3 separate regions of the Homo sapiens genome follow, and all the other regions are linked to region 1. The links come from fine-mapping of genetic effects on gene expression. A gene starts in region 1. Each other region holds a variant in brackets. All regions are shown on one strand. Distances are from middle to middle.

The links. PIP is the estimated chance that this variant, and not a neighbour inherited with it, causes the effect.
Region 2: its variant is fine-mapped to the expression of LAMB2 in whole blood (INTERVAL, PIP above 0.99).
Region 3: its variant is fine-mapped to the expression of LAMB2 in whole blood (INTERVAL, PIP above 0.99).

Annotation. Positions count from the first base shown.
Region 1 is chr3:49,128,803-49,136,948 of GRCh38, forward strand. LAMB2 (laminin subunit beta 2) reads right to left here and starts at 4,248. Exons shown (of 32, transcript NM_002292.4): 1 at 3,990-4,248; 2 at 3,689-3,861; 3 at 3,468-3,603; 4 at 3,314-3,387; 5 at 2,733-2,921; 6 at 2,577-2,640; 7 at 2,148-2,350; 8 at 1,938-2,058; 9 at 1,429-1,617; 10 at 1,037-1,216; 11 at 802-914; 12 at 443-522; 13 at 218-350; 14 at 1-17. The coding sequence starts at 4,065. It overlaps LOC124909377 (a long non-coding RNA gene), which reads left to right and starts at 4,066. Exons shown (of 2, transcript XR_007095905.1): 1 at 4,066-4,817. RefSeq lists enhancers at 1-177, 2,706-3,521, 4,339-5,154, a cis regulatory region at 5,688-5,901 and a silencer at 7,434-7,728.
Region 2 is chr3:48,667,968-48,676,142 of GRCh38, forward strand. NCKIPSD (NCK interacting protein with SH3 domain) reads right to left here. Exons shown (of 13, transcript NM_016453.4): 13 at 5,877-6,780. The coding sequence ends at 6,577. LINC02585 (long intergenic non-protein coding RNA 2585) reads left to right here. Exons shown (of 3, transcript NR_111921.1): 3 at 1,132-1,207. Among named protein-coding and RNA genes, the nearest start is that of LINC02585, 8.3 kb to the left of the region's middle. The variant C/A (reference allele first, on the strand shown) is at 3,065.
Region 3 is chr3:49,068,412-49,076,586 of GRCh38, forward strand. All of the region lies in intron 2 of QRICH1 (glutamine rich 1), which reads right to left. Among named protein-coding and RNA genes, the nearest start is that of QRICH1, 22 kb to the right of the region's middle. The variant C/CA (reference allele first, on the strand shown) is at 4,120.

The sequences.
Region 1 (8,146 bases):
TCCACCACATCGAGCACCTGGGAGATAATGCAGCCAGGGATGGAGGCTCAGGTGAGGCTTTGCCTCTTCTGCCACAGCCAGCCCCAAACCCCATTTCTCCTGCCAAAGCTAGATATCACCCCTATCCCCTCAACAAGGTACTGCCCATAACCCCACCTCTCCAGTCATAGACGTGTCCACCCACATCCAGCCCTCTGCTTAGGGGGAGGCCCCACACCTGCCCTCGGGTGTCCTCAGCCTCCCAAATTAGGTGGTCCAGGAAGGGCCGGAAGTAGCCAGGTTGCACCTGCTCACAGCGTCGCCCAACCATGTGCTGGCGGCAGTGGCATTGACCTGTGCCCTCATCACACCTGGAGGGAACTCTGTGGTTACTCAAGAAGAACCTTCTCTTCTGCTCAGGATCTTTCCCCATCCCTTCCCAGGCCCCCTTTACAACACTTACTGGGGATCCAAAGCACCACCCACGTCGCAGTCACAGGGGCGGCAGCCGAGCAGGTCGTGGCTCAGGCCCCAGTGGCCAGGCTGCACGAAAGGAGTTGCTGGGGGCCAGAAACAGACCTCCAGACCCCATCACCACCCAGCAGGAAATCCCAACCACACGTCTTAGCCTCAATCACCCCTCAGTGAAAACATGCCCCCCAGACCACTGGCCCACATCCTTGGCCTCCCAGACCTGAGGCTTCTCAGCCAGGACTGGATCCTAAGCTCTCAGCACCCACCCACTGGCATAGATGTGACACCCCAGCCCTGTGCTCTAAGGACAAATCATGCCCCTAGAACTCCAGCCCCTTCCAGTCGCACCAGGCAGCGGTCACATCCACGTCCAGTCACTAGACGTTTGCAGTAACAGGATCCACTGTTGGGGTCACAAGGAGTGCTCCCAGGCACTGTGCCCCGTGCATTACATTGACATCCTGCAGGGAAGGAGAACCATCAGCACTTTGGGAAACTGTGGCAGTGCTCATGTTCAGCTGAGTCAGGAGTAAGAGGACAGGGGTTAAAGGTCAGCATAGAAGTTAGGGCAGGAGACACATACGCCGGCAGCCCAGACGGTCACTGATGCTGAGCCCAAAGAAGCCATCACGGCATTGCTGGCAGCGAGTGCCCACCACATGTTCTTTGCAGCGACACTGGCCGGAGACCAGTCCCAGTGCAGGGTCATCATGGGAATCACAGCGACCACCGTCTTGAGAACCCATGGGGTCACAATCACAGGCTGACGGCAAAAAGAGATACAGGGTCACTCACCCTATCTCAACTAGCTCACTGCCAGTCCTCTCCTAAGCCTAAGGGATCCCACCCTGGATCCCTGGTCAAGTTCTATCCCAAGCCCCTAACCCCAATTTCCTGCAATTTAGACAGCAGTCCAGCTCTCTAGTTCCTGCCCCAGGCTCAGCTTTCTCTCCCCGTGCCCAATCCCAGCCTCACAGCGGCACACAGCCGGATCCCGCAGGTCCTTGGTTGGGTCACGGTAGAAGAAGGGCCGACAGAGCTCACAGTGGCGCCCAGCTGTGTTATGCTGACATCCATCACACACACCTCCACTCACATTGCCAGATGCCAGGTATACGGCCATGTCGAAGTGGCAGCTGTGGGTGTGCCCATGGCACTCACACTCTGGCAGGGGAGGAAGGGCAGGGCAAAGGCCACATGAGGAACCAGGTCACAAGGGTAAGAAGTAGGCCACCTTAGATCCCTATCACAGGCCAGAATTTGTGGGTAGGGGCTCAGGGACTTCAAGGCCTCAGCATCATACTGGTTCCCTACCCAGAGCAGACTGCAGAGGAGGATTGAGGGGGTCCCAAGGGGCATCAAGGTCTGCATACTCTTTGGATACAGCCTGGGTTTTAGGGGCTTGACCAACTAGCTCTAGGTTCTACCCAGGGCACAGCCAGGCTGCAGAGTGCTGGAGCTATGGAGGCCAAGATCTCACTCACTCCTACAGGCATGACTATGGCCGTCCTCAGCCGGACGCCAGGGCAGGTCACGATAGAAATCCTGACACTGCTCGCAGTTGAGGCCACGTGTGTTGTGTTTGCAGATGCAAGCTCCGTGCACCTATAGAGGTTGGCAGGTAGGTTGTCAGCACTGCTCAGCCATGTCCGCCCCTGCCCCTAGCCCTATCCCAACCGTCTGAAGCCCCTTACCATGCCCTCAGCATGGGCTGGTGCCCCTGGGGCGGGTGCACACTCTGAGGCGTGTCCGTAGCAGAAGCAGTTGCCACGTACAACCAGCTCATAGAGGGCATAGTAGTACTTCTCTCGGATCTCCCTCCGTGGGTCGAGTAGGTTGTCTCCCAACGTGTGTAGACGAGTCAGGTTCACCCGTAGGTTGGTGATCTTCAACAGGTCTGAGGCGGGGGAAGGGGGGCCAACTGACCAGGCAGGCCCTTGCTGCCCCATGTCCACCCAGGGGCTCAGCTGCCAAGGTCACCTTGAAAGACCTCCTATACACTGCCACCCGAGCTAAACTGGGCTTGGCACCTGCCCTAGGAAGCACCCAAAATAGTTACTGAGGCCCCAAATAGTCCCTAGCCGGACACGGACTGTGCCAGACTCAAAGGGTGGAGCACTCACTCTGAATCCGTGAGCTGTAGGGGTCTGGGATAGGGATGGCAGGGTCCAGCACACGATAGATGACCTGGAGAAGCAGGGAGTTCATAGTCACACTGGACCTTGCCTCAGGCCCATCATCCCCAGCTTCCAGCCCCCAGCCCAGATGCCAGCCCTCACCTCGCCTTCAGTGGATGGCTCAATCTCTGAGTAGCGGGACTCACAGACTACATCATCCCAGTGCCGTGGGGGTGCTAGTGGGACTCCTGGGAAGTCAGCCCCACAGTCATAGGAGAAATATCGGTACACATGCCAGGTGCGGCCAAAGTCTGCTGAGCGTTCCACCAGCATGGCAGCAGGGCGAAATGTCTGGGTAGGGGGGCATAGCTGATCAGCAGGCACCAGGACCCAAGCCCAACCCAGAGCCATCAAGAGCCCTGCTCAGCCCAAGACTGCCCTCAAATAGCTCACAGAGAGTGGGGGTGACTGGTGGAAGCCAGATAATGACCAGCAAAGGTAGCCACCTCTAATGGGGAGACTCAGGGTTCATGGGGCTCAGGGAGACAGCGCCTGACCCAGCCTGGGATTGGAAAGGCAGAAGAGCATGTGCAAAGGCCTGGAGGCAAATGGAAGGTGTGAAGGGATGAAGGAGCCTCCTGCATCCATGCTCAAGGAGGCTGTGTTAAGGAGCTGAGGCTCTGTCCAGGGGCAATGGAGAGCCAAGCAGGGTGATTCGGGCAGGCTCCCAGATATGCAGGCACCTTGAAGGTCATAATGAGGTGTGTGAAATGAAACTCAGCCTCCAGGTCCAGCTGGATGGTGACCGCAGGGATACCTGGGACAGGAATCGGAAGTCAAGGACTCAAAGCTACTGGTGGGCAGCCCTGCTCACTTTTGCCCCACCCATGGCCTCACCATTCTCTGACTGCCACCAGGCTGCCCGCCGCTGTGGTGCAAAGCTGGTGACTACATTCTGGATGCGATGGCTGTGTGGGTTGTCTCTAGCAGAGAAGGGGCGCCGGGAGTCACAAAGGAAGCACTTCTTTTCGTCCTGGGTTGGATGGGGATTAGAATCAGTGCCTCAGGCAGTGCCAGCCCCACCCTGACTCGGCGTCACACCCTGTCCCCAGCCACACCTGCAGGTGACTGACGATGCAGTAGGGCTGGGGGCCATTCAGGCCACAAGTGGATGAGGCAGTCAGTCTGTCAGCTCGGCCCACCAGCAGGTCGCCCGTGGCGGGGTAGCAGCTTCCCCTGGAACAGCCAGGCACATCCGGGGCAGGGGCCTGTGCCAGTGTGGCAGCCAGCACTGGGGACAGTAGCTCAGTCAGTTCCGCTGAGTTCCTATCCAGTGGCTCCACCTCATGTGCCCCAAGGGCAACTACCAGGACCTACCATCACATTCCACAACCCCCAGCCCCCACCAGGCCCTCTCACCGCTTAGCAGTAGGCCCAGTCGAAGTTCCCAGGGCAGAGGCTGTCCCCTCCCTCTTTCCCTTGAGGTCAGCTCCATCCTGAAGAGGGGAACAGGGATAAGGGGAGGTGAACGGTCTCGGGCCCGAGCCCTCCTCCTTGCTTTGGGGTTCCGTGTCAACTCTGCCTGTGGGTCTTTGGCCTGTTTCCCTCCAGGCCCTCTGTCAGTTCCCAGGTCTGTCCAGCGGTCCCTCCGACAGCTTAGAGTCCAGCGACTTTGAGCAAAGTTGGGAATCGCGGCAGGAAGGAAAGGCCGGAGCGGATTCTGGGAAGGAGCGCAACACCGGGCGGAGAGCGCCCCCACCCCAACCCTACCCCTTCCCTCCGGAAACTGCCTTCGCCCCAGGAACCAGAGACAGACCACTTCACCCACAAATCTTTATTGTGCCCCCAAGCCCACACCTATACGAGGGCCAGGGGAAGGTAAGGGGTTTGGTGCTTTAAACTATCCTTGGAAGAGGGCTCACGAAGTTGGGGGCATGGCAGGAGCAAATGAGAGATCTTCGGGATCTCCAACTCTGGACCAAGGAGACCGTAGCCTTTTCCCCTCAGCGTCATGGGCGCCGTGGAAATTACCATCAACTCAGCCGTTTGATCCCAGGGCTCCAGCATCAACAGAGAGGCTGGAGGGCACAAGCAGGAGCAACACATGCCCCTATTCAGGGCTGTGGGGGGCTCTCGGGTAGTCCTAGGGACTGGACAGAATGGGGCTGGGGGAGAGATGGGGAAAGTGCACACCCAGCCCGAAGCACAGCTCCAGGGGGGTCACTGCCTCCCCCACTAGTCACTACGGTAAGTAGGCACGAGAAGTGCTGCGGGTTTCCCTGTATGGAAATAGGCTCTGGGTGGTGGACCAGAGCTACGGCGAGCGACTCCGGATCTTGTGGCTATTTATCCGCTCCAGACTTTTTGGCCTGCCGGGATCGCAGGAGCCTGGGGTTGGAATGTGCGCGGCGGCGTGGAGGGGGAGAGAAGGAGGAAAGTGGGTGGGGGATATGGGGCGCGCCCCACCCAGGGCCCTGGGAACGGGAAGCTGGGGGAAACATGGGGTCCTCCGGTCTTTAGGGCTGGGTCTGGCCTGCCGCCTCCACAGTCCCGGCAGGGAGTGCCCTGAGCTGCCATCCAGGGAAGAAAGCTGATGATAGTTCCTCAGGGGAATCACCCCACTTCACAAAGGAGCATGGGGGCGGCGGGGGTGGGGGTTGGGTGAGGGTTGGGTGGGGGTCAGTCAATCCGTTGGACTTTAGGCATCGCTGGGAGTTATTCTGGATATCCGGAGTAGAGGTCTCCAGTCACCCTGAGGATCATGTAGTCAACCTGGGGGATCAGGGATACTAGAAATTACTGAGAATTTTAATTTTTTTTTTTTTTTTGAGACAGAGTGTCGCTCTGTCACCCAGGCTGGAGTGCAGTGGCGAGATCTCCGCTTACTGCAACCTCTGCCTCCCAGGTTCAAGCGATTCTCCTGCCTCAGCTTCCCAAGTAGCTAGGATTACAGGCGCCCACCACCACGCCCAGCTAATGTTTCTATTTTTAGTAGACATGGGGTTTCACCATGTTGGCTTGGCTGGTCTTGAACTCCTGATCTCAGGTGATCCTCCCGCCTCTGCCTCCGAAAGCGCTGGGATTACAGGCATGAGCCAGTAAATAGTGCCAGGCCCCATCTATTTATTTTGAGTGGAGAATGCCAGCACTGTAGTCTCACAGTTTTAGATCACTCAGAGATAAAGGTGTATCAAGGTCTGGGACACTAGATGGCCTCAGGGAGTTACATGATCTGTCTGCTTTCTCAAGGTCAGAGGGCCACTGGGGGACATCGTGGGGCCACATGGGGGGGTCACTCAGGGTCAGTGGGCACTCAGTAGGATCTTTGGTCTCCCAAGGCCAGGAGATTCCTGGATCACTCTAGGGCCACTTTGAGTTACCCAGGTGATCCCACAGTCCTTCTTAATGGCTTCCATAGACAGTAATTAGCAGGTGGCATACTTATTGGTGGCAAAGCACATCATGTGCCCAAGCAGCTCAGCTGCCTGCTGCTCCAGGGCCTGCAGGGTGGCTGCCTTCTTGCCCAGTGCCTGTGCATTCTGTGTCAGGCGGCACTCCAACCCTGGGGTCAGGTCATCTGAGCCAGGCTCTGACCCCTGGCTCTAACCTCTGATCCTGGTCCCAGTCTCTATCACAACCCTGACCCTGACCCAGCCCTAACCTTAAATAAACCCTGAACCTAATCAACACTTGATCCCTGGTCTAAACCTTGACCCTAGCCCTGATCCCTACATGAGTCAAGATCTGATCTGGACCCAGCCTTAACCCTTCCACAACATCCCTATTCTGGCCCTGACCTTTCCATCTGACCCTAAGCCGTTCCCTGTGCCTGCCCTATTGCAGGCCAGCCATGCACCATGCAGGCAGCTGAAGCTGCTTTATGCCTTCTTCAGGAGCTCCTGGGCCTCAGCTCAAGCCTGCTGCACCCATTCTTTTGCATCCTGCACAGTGGCTACCAGGCCATATGTGTCCTCCTGCAGCTCGGCCACAGCCAAAGGGGCCACCTACAACTCCTAGGGCAGGGCTGGACCTGAATCCCCACCCCACCCAGAATATATTGCCTCAAATATATTACTGCCTAAGGTTCCTGGAGAAAAGGAGAATTTAGAACTGAGATCCCGCCTCAGTCCAGTATAGCCCAGCCCCAGCCCAAACCCCACTTTCCACTGTTCCAGAGGGGTCCCTGAGACCCCAGTGCCCACTCTTCCCCATTTCATCTTGCCCAGGCCCTCAGCCCTGCCTACGACTCATGCTGCCCATTCTTCTGCCTCCTGGGCCTGCTGCTGACTCAGGACAAAACATGCCCTGAGCACCTTAGCTACACTGGACAGACGCCCTGGGACTGGGGTCACCTCAACTGCCAGTGCCATCTGGGCCAGGCGCCCTACTACCTGGGGCAAAGGTTAGGGGGTCACAGAGAGGACACAGCACAGTAGCAACTAGGCTGAGTGTTATCACGGTCAAGGTACTTGGTAGCACTGTGGTATCATAGTGAGTCAAGGATCTCAGGGAGAATGGAAATCACAGCAGTCATTGAACAAGGGATGTAAAGGAGCTGAGGGTACAAGTAGGGTATCACCTCCTGTACAGTGCCCTCCAGGCCTTCAAGTGCCAGCTTCACTTCCTGTAGCCCTTGCTCTGCGGCCCCTGCATGAGTTCCATTCCCCCCTCAGCCAGCACCCCCTGAACATCCAGTGCTTGGTGCTGGGCCCAGGTTGTACCCTCCTTGAAGAACACAGGTGTTCAGTTAGGCATCCCTTTTCTGGCCACCCTCTGACTTCCACCTCCAGCCTCCTGGCCCTTCACCTGGTTCACTCTGCCTGATGGAGGATGCCTTCAGCTTTGGGCAGCTTCTGGCCCATGGCATCCGGTACAGGGAGAGCACCCTGGATCTGACCCAGCAGAAGAGCAATGCCTACTGCCCCCACCTTGGGGAAGGGGCACTGACAGCCAGCTCCACACTTGTGGTGTCCACACCTTTGTCTGTGGGGAAGAGGGTAGGGATCTTAGGCCTGAACCCTGAACTCTGAGCCAACAAACCCTGACCCTAGCCTCTCACTGATCCTGCCTTAGACACAACTATCCAGTGGTGTGCTGGAGGCTTACAAGAGGCAATTGTTGGCCGGGCGCAGTGGCTCACGCCTGTAATCCCAGCACTTTGGGAGGCCGAAGCAGGCAGATTGCCTGAGCTCAGGAGTTCGAGACCAGCCTGAGCAACACGGTGAAAACCCATCTCTACTAAAATACAAAAAATTAGCCAGGCATGGTGGCATGTGCCTGTACTCCCAGCTACTCAGGAGGCTGAGGCAGGAGAATTGCTTGAACCCGGGAGGCGGAGCTTGCAGTGAGCCAAGATCACACCACTGCACTCTAGCCTGGGTGACAGAGCGAGACTCTGTCTCTAAAAAAAATAAAAAATAAAATGATAATAAAAAAAGGGTAATCCCAGCACTTTGGGAGGCCAAGGCAGGCAGATTACAAGGTCAGGAGTTTGAGACCAGCCTGGCCAATGTAGTGAAAACTCATCTCTACTAAAAATAACAAAAATTAGCTGGATGTGGTGGCGGGTGCCTGTA
Region 2 (8,175 bases), 460 kb before region 1:
GGCGGGCACCTGTAGTCCCAGCTACTTGGGAGGCTGAGACAGAATGGCGTGAACCTGGGGAGGCGGAGCTTGCAGTGAGCCAAGTTGACGCCACTGCACTCCAGCCTGGGCGACAGAGCAAGACTCTGTCTCAAAAAAAAAAAAAAAAAAATCCCACTAGATTTTGTGTGTGTGTAAACTGACAAACTAGATTTAGCAGCCTGAGCAACACAGCAAAACCCCATCTCTACAAAAAATACAAAAATTTTGCACATGCCTGTATAGTCCCAGCTACTTGGGAGGCTGAAGTGGGAGGATCATGTGAGCTCTGGGGAGGTCGAGGCTGTAGTGAGCTATGATCACATGCTGCACTCTAGCCTGGGCAACAGAGCAAGAGACCCTGTATCTAAAAAAAGAATGAAAATTAAAAAATAAAAAGAAACCAAGATTGTGTGGTACTGGTACGAGGATAGGAAGACTAAAGGAACGAAATCCAGAGACAGGCCTGAAGATGTGTGGAAACTTGAATTTTGACAAGGGTGGTTCTTCAGAGCTAACATGAAGAAAGGGTTGTTTTCTTTTTTTTGTTTCCCCAGGAGCAACTCTATTAACTGAAAGAATAGGCTTTTCAATAAATGATGCTGGGTCAGTTGGATATCCATATAGAAAAAATTAAATGAGATCTCTATTTCACACTGCTTGCATAATCAATTCCATATAAATTTGACATCTGAAAATATACAGTTTCTAGAAAACAGTATTAAGACCTTGTTTTGTTTTTTGTTGTTGTTGTTTTTTGTTTTGTTTTTTGTTTTTTGAGACAGAGTCTCGCTCTGTCGCCAGGCTGGAATACAGTGGTGCAACCTTGGCTCACTGCAACCTCTGACTCCCTAGTTCAAGCAATTCTCCTGCCTCAGCCTCCCGAGTAGCTGCGATTACAGGCACATGCCACCACGCCCAGCTAATTTTTGTATTTTTAGTAGAGATGGGGGTTTCACCATGTTGGCCAGGATGGTCTCGATCTCCTGACCCTGTAATCCGCCCACCTCGGCCTCCCAAAGTGCTGGGATTACAGGCGTGAGCCACTGCACCTGGCCAAGAGAAGATCTTAAAGGTGACTTTAAGCAAACTTTTTTTTTTTTTTTTTTACAGAGACGGGAGCTGGAGTGCAGTGGCTGTTCACAAGCGTGAAAGCAAAGATTAAAAAATTTGTTTTTATATTAAAAAAGTTTTTAGAGATGGGGGTCTCACTTTGTGGCCCAGCCTGCAGTGCAGTGGCGCGATCATAGCTCCCTGCTGCCTCGACTTCCTAGGCTCAAGGGACCCTCCTGTCTTGGCCTCTGAGTAGCTGAGACTACAGGTATGCTCCACCACACCCGGCTAATTTCTTTACTTTTTTGTAGGGACAGGGTCTCATCATTTTGCCCAGGCTGGTCTGGAACTCTTGAGCTCAAGTGATCCTCCTGCCTTGGCCTCCCAAAGTGCTGGGATTACAGGCATGAGCCACCACAGCCAGTCAAGATTTTTTAACAGGACAGGACTGTCTAACAGGATTGTCTAATAGGACATAAAATACACTAACTATAAAGGAAAGTATTGATAAATTGGATTACATAATGATTGAGAACCTTCTTTTATCAAAAGACATTAAAAGTGGGAGAAGATACTCTAAGATAGAACATCCATGGACTCATATCCTGAATACATACTACAAATCAATAAAATATACACAAACAGATAAATGGGGCAAGAGATTCGAATAGTTACTTCACAAAAGAGAACATTCAAATAATATTGAAAAGGTGCTCAACCTCTTTAGTCATCAGGGAAATGCAAATTGAAAAAAATAAATACTGGCTAGGTGAGGCGACTCACATCTGTAATCCCAGCACCTTGGGAGGCTGAGATGGACAGATCACTTGAGGCCAGGAGTTTGAGACCAGCCTGGCCAGCATGGCAAAACCCTGTCTTTACTCAAAGCACAAAAGTTAGCCGGGCATGTTGGCCCACGCCTGTGGTCCCAGCTACTTGGGAGGCTGAGGCATGAGAATCGCTTGAACCCAGGAGGAGGAGGATGCAGTGAGCTGAGAATGCACCACTGGACTCCATCCTGGGCAACAGAACAAGACTTTACCTCCCAAAAAAAAGGTGGAGAGGGGAGGACTACTGCACTCTACCAGGATAGCGAAAATAAAAATGACTTGACAATACCAAGTTTTGGGAAAGATAGAAGCTTGAACTGTCTGACACTACTGAAGGAGCATACATTGGTACAACTACTTTGGAAACCTATTTGGCAGTATCTGCCTGTGACCGTGAAATTCCACTCTTTATTTGGGAATATACCCTCCTAAAATAATGCGTATGAGCAACATGAAGACATGTACAACAGTGCTCCTGGCAGCAGTATTTGCAACAGACAAAAATTGGAAACAACTGAAAGGTCATCAACAGTGGATGGATACGCTGGGTGTGGTGGCTCATGCCTGTAATCCCAGCACTTTGGGAGGCCAAGGAGGGTGGATCACCCGAAGTCAGGAGTTTAAGACCAGCCTGGCCAACAAGGAGAAACCTTGTCTCTACTAAAAATACAAAAATTAGCTGGGTGTGGTGGCGCACGCCTGTAATCCCAGCTACTCAGGAGGCTGAGACAGAATTACTTGACCCCTCATCCTGGGGTTGGCCTTATGCATGTGCAGCTTATGGCTCAGCACATATGCCAAAGACACGGTGCCAGCACTTTTTTTTTTTTTTTTGAGTTGGGGTCTCACTCTCACCCAGGCTGGAGTGCAGTGGTGCAATTGCTCCTGAGCATAAGTGATTCTTCCACCTCAGCCTCCCGAGTAGCTAGGACTACAGGTGTGGGCCACCACGCCCAGCTAATTTTTGTATTTTTTGTAGGGATGGGGTCTTCCTATGCTGTCCAGGTTGGTCTCAAACTCCTGGGCTCAAGCGATTTTCCCTCTACGGCCTCCCAAAGTGCTAGGATTACAGGTGTGAGCCACCTGCACACTTACACACCCATTCCTAGCTGCAGCTTCAGAAACTTCTGACCCAGGAAGTCAGCCCAAACCCCCTCACTGTC[C/A]CCCAAAATTTGAGTTCTTCTCAACTCTACCCAAACACTCCCCTTTCTTGGGGTGGCTTAATGCTCTGTCTCATTGCCCTTCCTACTGCCTACCCACATATCACATCTACCAACCTTCCACGCAGCCATAGACGTGTTCTATCAAAGACAGTTCCCTCCCCAAGAGGACTTCTCTGACTAATCATAATCTGCCTTTGGTTGTAATTTTGTGTTGTGAGGCCACCACAAGGGTGTTTGCTGAAGAGGTCCTGGAGTCCCCTCAGAGCACGCTTGCTACCAGGAGTCAGCATGTATGTAACTTCATCAGCTGGGGCTTCTGCTTCTCTTACAAACAGGTGCCAGGGCCCACCTTGGGCACTCCTGCAGAAGTGAGCAGAGGCTTCTGCCATGGGGCCATACCTTGTTTGACCTAGGTGCCAGCACTGGGACAGATGGCACAGCACAGTCCTGCCGTTCCCACAGGGTTTGTGTGTGCATCATGACAGGAAACACAGCAAGTCACAAAGGCTGTCCGATGTCCCTGCCTCAGCTTCCTGAGGACCTGTGCTTTTTACTGAAATACACTATCTCATAAGAATACTTCCCTGCCTTCCGCACCCCAGTGAGAAAGGAGTTGTGACTGGAAGTCAGTGTCATTGACTTTGGATATGAAAAGGAGGCAGAATGTCTCCAGGGTTAAAAGTAGTAACCAGGCCAGGCGTGGTGGCTTATGCGTGTAATCCCAGCATTTTGGGAGGCGGAGGTGAGTGGGTCACCTGAGGTCAGGAGTTCAAGACCAGCCGGGCCAACATGGCGAAATCCCATCTGTACTGAAAATACAGGAATTAGCCGGGTGTGGTGGCAGGCGCCTGTAATACCAGCTACTGGGGAGGCTGAGGCAGGAAGAATTGCTTGAACCCAGGAGGTTAAGGGTTGCAGTGAGCCAAGATCACACCACTGCACTCCAGCCTGGGTGACAGAACACGATTCCATCTGAAAAAAAAAAAAAAAAAAAAAAGCGGGGGCTGGGCGCGGTGGCTCACACCTGTAATCCCAGCACTTTGGGAGCCTGAGACAGGTGGATCGTCTGAGATCAGGAGTTCGAGACCAGCCTGACCAACATGGTGAAACCCCGTCTCTACTAAAAATACAAAAATTAGCTGGATGTGGTGGTGGGCACCTGTAATCCCAGCTATTCGGGAAGCTGAGGCAGAGGAATCATCGCTTGAACCTGGGAGGTAGAGGTTGCAGTGAGCCGAGATCACACCATTGCATTCCAGCCTGGGTGACAAGAGCAAAACTCCGTCTCAAAAAGAAAAAAAAAAAAAGTTAGTAACCAGGTTGTGTCCCACAGAGCTTTACTGGGGGCCAAACACTGTCAACCCCTCCTCAGGTCCCAGTGAGTTTGTGCACCTGGCCTTCTGACAGTAAGCGGTGAGCAGGGCATCCCCCACCAGGACCCCATACTTTCCTCCCATGGGTTTCCTATGGAATGTTGCTGCTTCAACTTCTGAGAGCCTCTTGCTGGGGGGCCCCATCCCTAGCCCTTGCCTCCCTGTGCTGCTTTACCTTCTTTTTGGGAGGATAACTGCCCTCTGTTTTCAGCACCCCAATAAGAAAGAAAAAGTCATGACCAGAAGTCAGTGTCAGTGATTGCTGATGTGTGGAAACATCTGATGAATGAAGAGTTTGGGTAAAAAATAAAGGGAACTGATGAAAACCACTTGTGTGTGAAGCCTATATAGTGGTGTGTGCCTGTAGTCCCAGCTACTCGGGAAGCTGAAGTGGGAGGACTGCTTGAGCACAGGAGTTGGACATCAGCCTTGAAAAGATAGTGAGACTCAATCTAGAAAACAGAAACAACACTTCTGACTGGTGTCTGCCTGTGGGTTTCTGACTCTGCTCCCAAACTTATGGTGAGAACTTCTTTGCTAACTTGAGAGTCTGCAAGAGTGAAGTTTTTGCCAAATTTTGGCCCTTAGTTCCTCTAAAACACTAATGGAAACGTAACCCCATGCTTGTTAAGACCCTCCTTCTGCCCTACCATGATTACCAGATCTCTGCTGAGGTTGCAAGATGAGGTGATCTTGCTGGAAACAAGGACAAATGGGGGAAGAAAATAGGGCTGGACAGGCCCAAGCATTCAGAGGCCAGGGCTGGGGGTAGGTAGGGGCCTGCTTCATTTGAGAACAACTATGAAGGACAATAGGGTTTCAACAGGGGAGAGAGTAGCGGTATTCAAAGCAAAGCAAAAGATGTAAGTGAAAGATGTAAGCGGGCCGGTGCGATGGGTCACGCCTATAATCCCCGTACTTTGGGAGGCCAAGGCAGGAGGATCACCGGAACTGAGGTGTTTGAGACCTGCTTGAGCAACATAGTAGGACCCTGTCTCTACCAAAAAAAAAAAAAAAAATTAAATTAGCTGGGCATGGTGGCTACTGTAGTTTCAGCTACTCAGGAGGCTGAGGCAGGAGGATCACTTGAGCCTGGGAGGTCAAGGCTACAGTGAGCCTGGGTAACAGAGTGAGACTGTCTCAAAAAAAAAAAAAAGGAGAAAAAGAAAGATGTAAGTGTGTAAGTGAAGCCTGGAGATGCAGACACCTGCGAATGGGCTGCTGAGGGGCACTTGGCTATGGCTGGGGCTCAGGAAAAGTGGAGCTCAGGGAAGAGAGGCTAGAACAGGGCTCAAAGGGCCTTGAAGGCCAGGCCTGTCAGGGTCCATCACCTCCTCAGGCTGGAGAAGTCAGTGCAAGCTGCAGTGATGGGGTCCTGAGGCCCCAGTACTTCTGCCCATCCTCTCCCACTGTCTCCCAAGATCATACAGGGAAGCCTGTTTCCAGATGCCTGTGATTTATTTCCAAAGGAGAGCTACAGCACATAGGAAAATACACATGGCTTTTCAGTCTACATTTTTACAGAGAAAAGAGATTCGGTCATTGGCTTTCTCAGTGCCATCATCCTGTTCCATGAGGCTCCAGGATGGATGGCCTGTCTCCAAGATCCCGCTTTCAAAGCAGCAGCTTGGCCAAGGCCTCTGGGGGTAGGAGTGAAGGGCAGCGACCCCCATGTGCGGGTGGAGGGGAGGACATGAGCAGCACTCACTGCAAAGCTAAGGCAAAGAATAGAGCTGGTGGGAGATGCCTCCCCTCACCCCAGGGGCATGGCTTGCTGAGGCCCAGGATACAGACCAGGAGGGGTGGGGATGGGGGTCTGGTCCAGCCTGGAGCGGCAGCAGGACTCTGAGTGTACACATGGGTGTGGGGTGAAGAGGGGGGCATGCTGAAGAGGAAGCCTACCAGGGTATAGAGGGGCTTTAGCTTGCATATTCCCCCTGCCCCAGAACAGCTCCCAGACCATGGTCCCCAATCCTACACTTGGCCCCTCTCTTAAGTTCTACTTCAGGTGGGGGTCCTGCTCAGGTTCCTTCTGCCACCTTATCCCCTCCCACTGTCAGTGCAAAACATTCTTAGGGCCAAGCCCCTGAGTCCCCTGCACACTGACTGGAGCTGCAGGGAAGGGAGGACAGCAAGGTGCTAGCTGGGAGCCTCCCCCAGCACCAGGAATTCCTTGCACATCTCTCGGACAATCATGCGGTCCATCTGGCACTGGGGTGAGGTCTCCTCCTCATTCAGGATGCGTCGCAGTATGGCCTGCAGGTCGGGTAGCCGGTGGCGGTGCTGCAGGTAGGGTGTGGTGCGGACTATAGCATGCATCAGGGAGAGGTACTCCATGCGCAGCTGTGGGAAGAGCAGGCCAGCTCAGGGACCCCAGGGAGGTACTGCAACCACCACTGGACAGGGACAGGACCCCACTGTCCCACAGACCCCAGGGCTGTGGACCTGAACATCAGGGCTGCATCCCCAGCACCCACAATATACCTGGCACAGAATTGGTCTTCAATAGTTTTTGAGTAAGCGAATAAACGAATCATCCCAGCCACAGACAGCCCCAAGTATGTGGCCTGCCCAGGGAAGTCCTGCCCATCCTTTGAAGCTGGGTCTCTCAAGGTGCCTCTGTCTATCAGTCAGAGGCCCTCTGCTTCTCACCCTATCCTCTCTTACCCTGGAAGACCTCGTGCACATTCACAGCTTCAAATAGTGAACCACTCTCATACCTCTTACCTAGAACTCCCCTGTGAGCTCCAGACAAGAATATTCAACTGCCCACTTGACATCTCCTGCACATGTGACAGACCTCAAATCCACATATCTACCACCAAACTCATGATCTTTCCCATCCTCCCAGAGTTGAAGGTTTTCTCATGTTCTTACCTTTAGAAAGAGCACTGTTGCCGATTCAAAAGCACAGGCCTGAAATATGGTGTCCTCTTTGCTTCTTGTCTCCCACATACCTCATATCCAAGCCATGTCTAAGACCTGGCCATCCTACCTCCTACATATGCCCCAAATTCATCTCCAACAGCCTCTCCTCCAACCTATACTCCCAACACCTCTGGCTGAACCAGTTCCAACAGCCCTTATGATCTATATATATATATCATATATATATATATATATGATATATATATATATATATCATTTTTTTTTTTGAGACAGGGTCTCGTGCTGTCACCCAGGCTGGAGTGCAGTGGCATGATCTTGGCTCACTGCAACCTCTGACTCCTGGATTCAAGTGATTCTCCTGCCTCAGCCTCCCAAATAGCTGGGATTACAGGCATGTGCCAAAATGCCTGGCTAATTTTTGTATTTTTTTTAAGAAGAGACGGGGTTTCGCCATGTTGGCCAGGCTGGTTTCAAACTCCAGACTTCAAGTGATCCACCCACCTCGGCCTCCCAAAGTGCTGGGATTACAGGCGTGAACCACCACGCCCGGCCAGCCCTTATGACTTGACAGCTTGTTCTCACAGAGACCCCCAGTCCACTGACCTGATGTCTGCTTCCCTCAACATCCCTCATTTCTCTTTTTACCTTTAATTAGAGAAATAATACCAAAACCTCCTTTAGGCAGCACACCCTGCTAAGTCCCAGCCCTGGGAGTCATACTGAGGTGCCTGCACATCAAACACCAGCGTCTAAGCTATAGACAAATGCAGAGCCATGTGCAGGCCTGAATGTCATTCACCACCGCAAACCTCAAACGGACACACAGCACTGCCTGAGCCTCCCACTGCT
Region 3 (8,175 bases), 60 kb before region 1:
CACACCACTGCATTCCAGCCTGGGTGACAGAGCAGGACTCCGTCTCAAAAAAATTAAAAAAAAAAAAAAAATTAGTTGGGCGTAGTAGCTGTAGTCCAAGCTACTCAGGAGACTGAAGCAGGAGGATCACTTGAGCCCAGGAAGTCCAGACTGCAGCGAGCCGTGATCATGCCACTGCACTCCAGCATGGATGACAGAGCCAAGCTTGGCTAAAATTTCTTTCTTTTTTTTTTTGTGATGGGGTCTGTGCTCTATTGCCCAGGCTAGAGTGCAGTGGCACGATCTCGGCTCACTGCAACCTCCGCTTCCTGGGCTCAAGTGATCCTCCAGCCTCAGCCTCCTGAGTAGCTGGGATCACAGTCATGCACCACCATGCCTGGCCAATTTTTTGTATTTTTGGTAGAGATGGGAGTTTTGCCATGTTGCCTAGGCTGGTCTAGAACTCCTGAGCTCAAGCAATCCACTCACCTTGGCCTCCCAAAATGCTGGGATTACAGGCATGAGCAACCACACCCGGCCAAACTTGGCTAAAATTTAAAGTAGAAAGGAATAAAACTACTCTTGCAGGTATCATATAGCACAAACCATCTCTCTAGCATCCTGTAGGTTAGAAATTTGTGATAAGACTTTTAGAACTACTTGAATAAGGCAAAAAAGCCTCAAGTAGAAAATTTATTATTATTATTATTATTATTATTTTTTTTTTTTTTTTGAGATAGTCTTGTTCTGTCGCCCAGGCTGGAGTGCAGTGGCGCAATCTTGGCTCACAGCAACCTCCGCCTCCCGGGTTCAAGCAATTCTCTGCCTCAGCCTCCCGAGTAGCTGGGATTACAGGTGCCCACCACCACACCTGGCTACTTTTTTGTATTTTTAGTAGAGACGGGGTTTCACCATCTTGGCCAGGCTGATCTTGAACTCCTGACCTCGTGATCCACCCGCCTTGTCCTCCCAAAGTGCTGGGATTAGAGGCATGAGCCACCACACACAGCTGAAAATTATTTTTTACAGAAAAAAAGGACGTTTCCTCCAATTACACTTATAACTTGCATTAATAGTTGATAATCTGTGTGGGCGAGGGGACCACAAAGAGCACTCTAAAAGGCTGGCGAAAATACAGATCCATGGGGGGGAATTTTTTTTTTTTTTTTTTTTTTGAGATAAAGTATTCTCAAGCGATCCTTCCACCTCAGCCTCTTCAGTAGCTGGGATTACAGGTGTGTACCACTACATCTGGCTAATTTTATTTTTAGTACAGACAAAGTCTCACTATGTTGCCCAGGCTGGTCTTGAATTCCTGAACTCAAAGGATCCTCCTGCCTCAGCCTCCCAAAGTACTGAGATTACAGGTATGAGCCACTGCACCCAGCCTATGATTCTTACTCAAAAGAGCAGTAACAATTATCATCAAACTAATGTATCTCTAACTTGCTCATCAAGGTAATGTGAGCTGTAAGTATACATATGTGTATGTGTGTGTTTTGAAGTCTCTAGTCAATTCCCAACCTTTAGTTCTAAAGCTACCCCAGTGGACCTCTACTCTGTGTATCCTCTACTTCTCAGCTTAGGGCACTCTAAGAACTGCCCCACTTTCCCCAAAAGTTCTTTCCTACACGCATTTGTCACCAAATTTTTTTTTTTTTTTGGAGACAGAGTTTCGCTCACATTGCCCAGTCTGGAGTGCAATGGTACGATCTCAGCTCACTGCAACCTTGGCTTCCCAGGTTCAAGCAATTCTCCTGCCTTAGCCTCCGAATAGCTGGGACTATAGGCACCTGCCAACATGCCCGGCTGATTTTTGTATTTTTTAGCAGAGATGAGGTTTCACCATGTTGGCCAGGCTGGTCTCAAACTCCTGACCTCAGGTGATCCGCCTGCCTCAGCCTCCCAAGGTGCTGGGATTACAAGCATGAGCCACCACGCCTGGCCTTTCATCACCTAATTCTGTCTACTTATTCTCTTTTATCAATTTCTTAGATTTAGTGGTTTTTAAATGGTATTCATTTTTTCCAACACTCTTAAAAATGCTTTGTTGTTCTGTTTTTTATAGAGACAGGGTCTTGCACTTTTGCCCAGGATGGAGTGCAGTGGCGTGATCACAGCTCACTGCAACTTCGAACTCCTGGGCCCAAGGAGTTCCTCAGCCTTCTGAGTAGCTGGGACTACAAGTGCACACCACCATGCCAAACTAATTTTTGTGTTTTTCTGTAGAGATGAGGTTTTACCATGTTTCCCAGCCTGGTCTCAAACTCCTGGGCTCAAGTCATCTACATACTTCAGCTTCCCAAACAGCTGGGATTACAAGTGTGAGCCACCATGCCTGGCCTGGCCAGAATTCTTTATTTTTTAAAAGTATCTTTTTAGTCACTTAGGGAAAACATACATTCTTATGATTCTATCACACTGAATCTATCTCATGGATGTCATTATATTTGTTTCTTCTTTCATTTACATAGAGTTTAGGGAGAAAGACGAACGTTAATAGTGATCTCGGTCAGTGGCTTTTCTTTCTTCTGAGACAGAGTCTGCTCTGTCACCCAGGCTGTGGTGCAGTGGTGTGATCTTGATTCACTGCAACCTCTACCTTCCAAGTTCAAGCATTCATCAGTTTATCTTGAACATAAAGTCTCAAAAAACACTCCAAACTTAAATCCCCAAACTTTTTTTTTTTTTTGAGACAGACTCTTGCTCTATCGCCCAGGCTGGAGTGCAGTGGTGTGACCCTGGCTCTCTGCAAGCTCCACCTCCCGGGTTCACGTCATTCTCCTGCCTCAGCCTCCCGAGTAGCTGGGACTACAGGCACCCGCCACCAGGCCTGGCTAATTTTTTGTATTTTTAGTAGAGACGGAGTTTCACTGTGTTAGCCAGGATGGTCTCAATCTCCTGATCGGCCTCCCAAAGTGCTGGGATTACAGGCATGAACCACCGCACCCAGCCCCAAACTCTTTAATCTTATGAGAAAGCGGGGCCAGGTGTAATGGCTTGTGCCTGTAATCCAAACACTTTGTATTTGTAATCCAAACACCCACAAAGTGGGTGGCTCAGCTGAACTCAGGAGTCCCAAGACCAGCCTAGGGGCCAGGTGCAATGGCTCATGCCTGCACTTTGGGAGGCTGAGGCAAGTGAATCGTTTAAGGTCAGGAGTTCAAGACCAGTCTGTCCAACATGGTGAATGAAACCCCACCTCTACTGAAAAAAGTACAAAAATTGGCCAGGCGTGGTAAGGAAGAGGAGGTCAAAGCTGTAAAAAACAGCAGAATAATTTGAGCCAGAAAATCAGACTTCTTTTCTCTTTTTTTGAGACACCTTTCCTGTCCTTAGTGTAAAAGGCTAGAGTGCAGTGGCACAATCACAGCTCGCTGCAACCATGACCTCCCAGGTTCAGGTGATCCTCCCACTTCAGCCTCCCCAGTACCTGGGATCACACAAGCAAGCCACCATACCCAGTTAATTTTTGTACTTTTGTACAGACAGGATTTCGCCATGTTGCCCAGGCTGGTCTCAAACTCCTAGGCTCAAGGAATCCACTCACCTCAGCCTCCCAAAGTGCTGGGATTACAGGTGTGAGCCACCATGCCTGGGCCAGCCTTCTTTTACTTAACCTTTCCTGTACCTTTTCTTCCTTACAAAGACAAAACAAGGCTGGGCGTGGTGGCTCATGCCTACAATCCCAGCACTTTGGGAGGCCGAGGTTGGCAGATCACTTAAAGTCAGGAGTTCAAGACCACCCTAGCCAACATGGTGAAACCCCATCTCTACTAAAAATATAAAAATTAGTCGGGCGTGCTAGCTTGAACCCCAGAGATGGAGGTTGCAGTGAGCCAAAATAATGCCACTGCACTCTAGTCTGGGCAACAGAGTGAGGCTCTGTCTCAAAAAGTAAGTAAATAAATATAAAGATAAAAAATGAGTAAATCTCAGCCTGGGCAACATGGTGAAATTCTGGCTCTATCAAAAATACAAAAAATTAGGCAGGTGTTGGTGGTGTGCGCCTGTGGTCCCATGTACTCGGGAGGCTGAGGTGGGAGGATTGCTTGAGCCTGGGAGGCTGGGGTTGCAGTGAGCCAAGATCATACCGCTGCACTCCAACCTAGGTGACAGAATGAGACCCTGTCTCCATTA[C/CA]AAAAAAAAAAAAACTCTCCATATGCCAGATACTTTATTATCTTATTCAGTCTCATTAAATGGTATTATCCTTATTTAACTGATGAACAAACTGGAGGTAAAGATTAATAAGCTCATGCCAACAATTGAGTGGTCAAGTCAAATTTAAACCCAGTACTGAAGCTTCAGAGGCTATGTCCTTCCAATATACTCGTCTGCATTTTTGAGGAGCTACAGTGAAACCTACTTCAGCTGGGAACAGTGGCTCATGCCTATAATCCCAGCACTTTGGGAGGCTGAGCCATGAGGACTGCTGGAGGCCAGGAGTTCAACACCAGCCTGAGCAACATGGCGAGAGTCCATCTCTACCAAAAATGAAAAAATTAGCTGGGCATGGTGGCACGCACCTGTAGTCCTAGCTACTCGGGAGGCTGAGGTGAGAGCATCACCTGAGCCCAGGAGGTAGAGGCTGCAGTGAGCCATGATCATGTCACAGCACTCCAGCCTGGGCAAGTGAAATCCTGTCTCTTAAAAAAAAAACAGAAAAAATGAAGGAAAGGGAAACCTTCTATCTCACCAGGCACACCTCTCCATACTCCTGCCTCTCCAGCATGTTTCAGTCCCTTTCCTATCCTCTTAGTATAAAAAGACTTCCAGAATACAATGAAATTAAACCATAATAGACAATGGCAAGAAAACTGCATTTGCAACTAGAGGAGCCTGTTATCTCACATAAAGACCTCTAAAGAGGAAAACTTTGGCCAGGCACGGTGGATCACACCTGTACTTTGGAGGCCAAGGCCGGTGGATCACCTGAGATCAGAAGTTCAAGACCAGCCTGACCAACATGGTGAAACCCTGTCTCTACTAAAAATACAAAAATTAGCCGGCACAGTGGCAGGTGCCTGGAATCCCACCTACTCAGGAGGTTGAGGCAGGAGAATCGTTTGAACCCAGGAGGCAGAGGTTGCAGTGAGCTGAGATCACGCCACTGCTCTCCAGCCTGGGTGACACAGTGGGACTCCATCTCGAAAAAAAAAAAAAGGAAAACATTTTACCTTCTCAACAAATGTACTAGTTTCTCGTCTTTCAGAAAGTTTATCATCAATTAGCATTATTTTTTTGTGCCTTACAATTTTTATTTTTATTTTTTTTGAGATGGGATCTCACTCTGTCACCCAGGCTGGAGTGCAGTGGCACGATCTCAGCTCACTGTAACCTCCACCTCCCAGGCTCAAGCGATTCTCCCATCTCGGCCTCCCTAGTAGCTAAGACCATAGGCGTGCATCACCACACCCAGCTAATTTTTTCTTATTTTTGGTAGAAACAGGGTTTCACCATGTTGCCCAGGCTGGTTTTAACCTCCTGGGCTCAAGCAATCCTCCCACCTCAGCTTCCCAAATAGCTGGGACTACAAGTACATACCATCCCTGGGTAATTTTTTTTTATTTTTTGTAGAGACGGGGTTTTGCCATGTTGCCCAGGCTGGCCTCAAACTTCTGGACTCAATGATCCGTCCACCTTGGCATCCCAAAGTGCTGGGATTACAGGCATTCACAAATGCACTTAGCCGTTTTGTGGTTTAGAAACAACAAACACAGACCCAGAAATCCATACGTAATCTGAGTTATGGAATCACACAAGTTAATGAAGATCACTGAAATACATCAGCCTTTCCATTTTTAAATTAATTTCAAATGTTACACTATCAGTAATCAGCCAAGACCAGCCCTCCTGTGTTCTGTCTCTATTCAGGATGACACAAATAGAAAGGAAGCCTCAGATGGACGTGGTGGCTCACACCTGTAATCCCAGCATTTTGGGAGGCCGAGGTGGGCGGATCATGAGGTCAGGAGATCGAGACCATGCTGGCTAACATGGTGAAACCCCGTCTCTACTTAAAATACAAAAAATTAGCCAGGCATGGTGGCTGGCGCCTGTAGTCCCAGCTACTCGGGAGGCTGAGGCAGGAGAATGGCGTGAACCCGGGAGGCGGAGCTTGCAGAGAGCCAAGGTCACACCACTGCACTCCAGCCTGGGGGACAGAGCGAGACTCCATCTCAGGAAAAAATACAAAAGAAAAGAAAGGAAGCCTCAGTCATATGAAGCTATCACACCTAAACCCAGTACCAAAAGATCTCTAATTTCAAAACTATTCAGCTCTCCACAGCAAAGATCAAATATTTGGGCCAGGCGCAGTGGCTCATGCCTGTAATCCCAGCACTTTGGGAGGCCGAGGCAGGTGGATCACGAGGTCAGGAGATCGAGACCATCCTGGCTAACATGGTGAAACCCCGTCTCTACTAAAAACACAAAAAAATTAGCTGGGCGTGGTGGCAGCTGCCTGTAGTCCCAGCTACCTGGGAGGCTGAGGCAGGAGAATGGCGTGAACCTGGGAGGCAGAGCTTGCAGTGAGCTGAGATTGCACCACTGCAGTCCAGCCTGGGCAACAGAGCGAGACTCCATCTTAAATAAAAAAGACCAAATATCTGTGGTGTTTTTAGTTTACAGTACTCGAAAATATTTTTAAGGCCAGGCATGGCAGCTCATATTTGTAATCTCAGCTCTTTGGGAGGCCAAGGCAGGAGAATATCTTGAGGCCAAGAGTTCAAGACCAGCCTGGGCAACATAGGGAGACTATATCTCTACAAAAAAAAAAAAAATTAATTAATTAGCTGCACGTGGTGGTACATGCCTGTGGTCCCAGCTACTTGGAGGTTGAGGCTGGATGATCGCTTAAGCCTTGGAGGTCAAAGCTGCAGTGAGGAGTGATCGTGCCACTGCACTCCAGCCTAGGTGACAGAGCAAGACCCTGTCCCTCAAAAAAAAAAAAAAAAAAAGTCAGGCGCCGTGGCTCATGCCTGTAATCCTAGCACTTTGGGAGCCCGAGAAGGGCAGATTACCTGAGGTCAGAAGTTCGAGACCAGCCTGGCCAACAAGGTGAAACCCAGTCTCTACTAAAAATACAAAAATTAGCCGGGCGTGGTAGCACATGCTTGCAATCCCAGCTACTCAGGAAGCTGAGGTAGGAGAATCGCTTGAACCCAAGAGGTGCAGGTTGCAGTGAGCCGAGATGGCTCCATTGCATTCTAGCCTGGACAACAAGAGCGAAACTCCAACTCAAAGAAAAAACAAACAAACAAAAAAAAGGCTGGGCATGGTGGCTCACACCAGTAATCCCAGCACTTTGGCACTTTGGGAGGCCAAGGCACGCAGATCTCTTGAGGTCTGGAGTTCAAGCCCAACATGGGGAAACCCAGTCTGTATTAAAAATACAACAAAAATTGCTGAGGGTGGTAGTGCACACCTGTAGTCCCAGCTACTCAGGAGTCTGAGGCATGAGAATAGCTTGAACCCGGGGGACAGAGGCAAGAATGCACCACTGCACTCCAGCCTGGGTGACAGAATGAGACTCTGTCTCAAAAAAGAAAAGAAAAAAACAACCCAGGTGTGGCCGGGTGCGGTGGCTCATGCCTGTAATCCCAGCACTTTTGGATAAGGAGGCAGGTGGATCATGAGGTCAGGAGTTCAAGACCAGCCTGGCCAACATAGTGAAACCCCGTCTCTATTAAAAGTATAAAAAATTAGCCGAGTGTGTTGGCAGGCACCTGGAATCCCAGCTACTCAGGAGGCTGGGGCAGGAGAATCCATCCTGGACCACAGTGCAAGACTCCATCTCAAAAAAAGAAGAAACAAACAAAGAAAACAACCCAAGTACAATGACATGGCAGCACCACAGTGTTGGTCAGCCTCGGAAAGCCAGTCCCCCACCATCACTGACATCGCCGCCGGCGGGGTCACGTGCCGGGACCGGGTTCCGGTGTGGAGAGCCCCTCATCCTGGGAAAAGGTGCTGCCAGAAAGGTGGCGCCCCCTCACTCATCACGCAAGTCACGTTGAACCTGATGCTAAACCAATCATAGATGACCCGCTTCTGGGTTGGGGTTTCCTAGGTAGCTAAGCAGATCCCTGGCTGCAATCTATTCAAAGTCAGTCCTTGACACTGGGGTTTGTTTAAAAAAAAAAAAAAGCTTAAAGAAAAAGGAGAAGAAAGAAAAAACTTTTAGTCCACATTAAC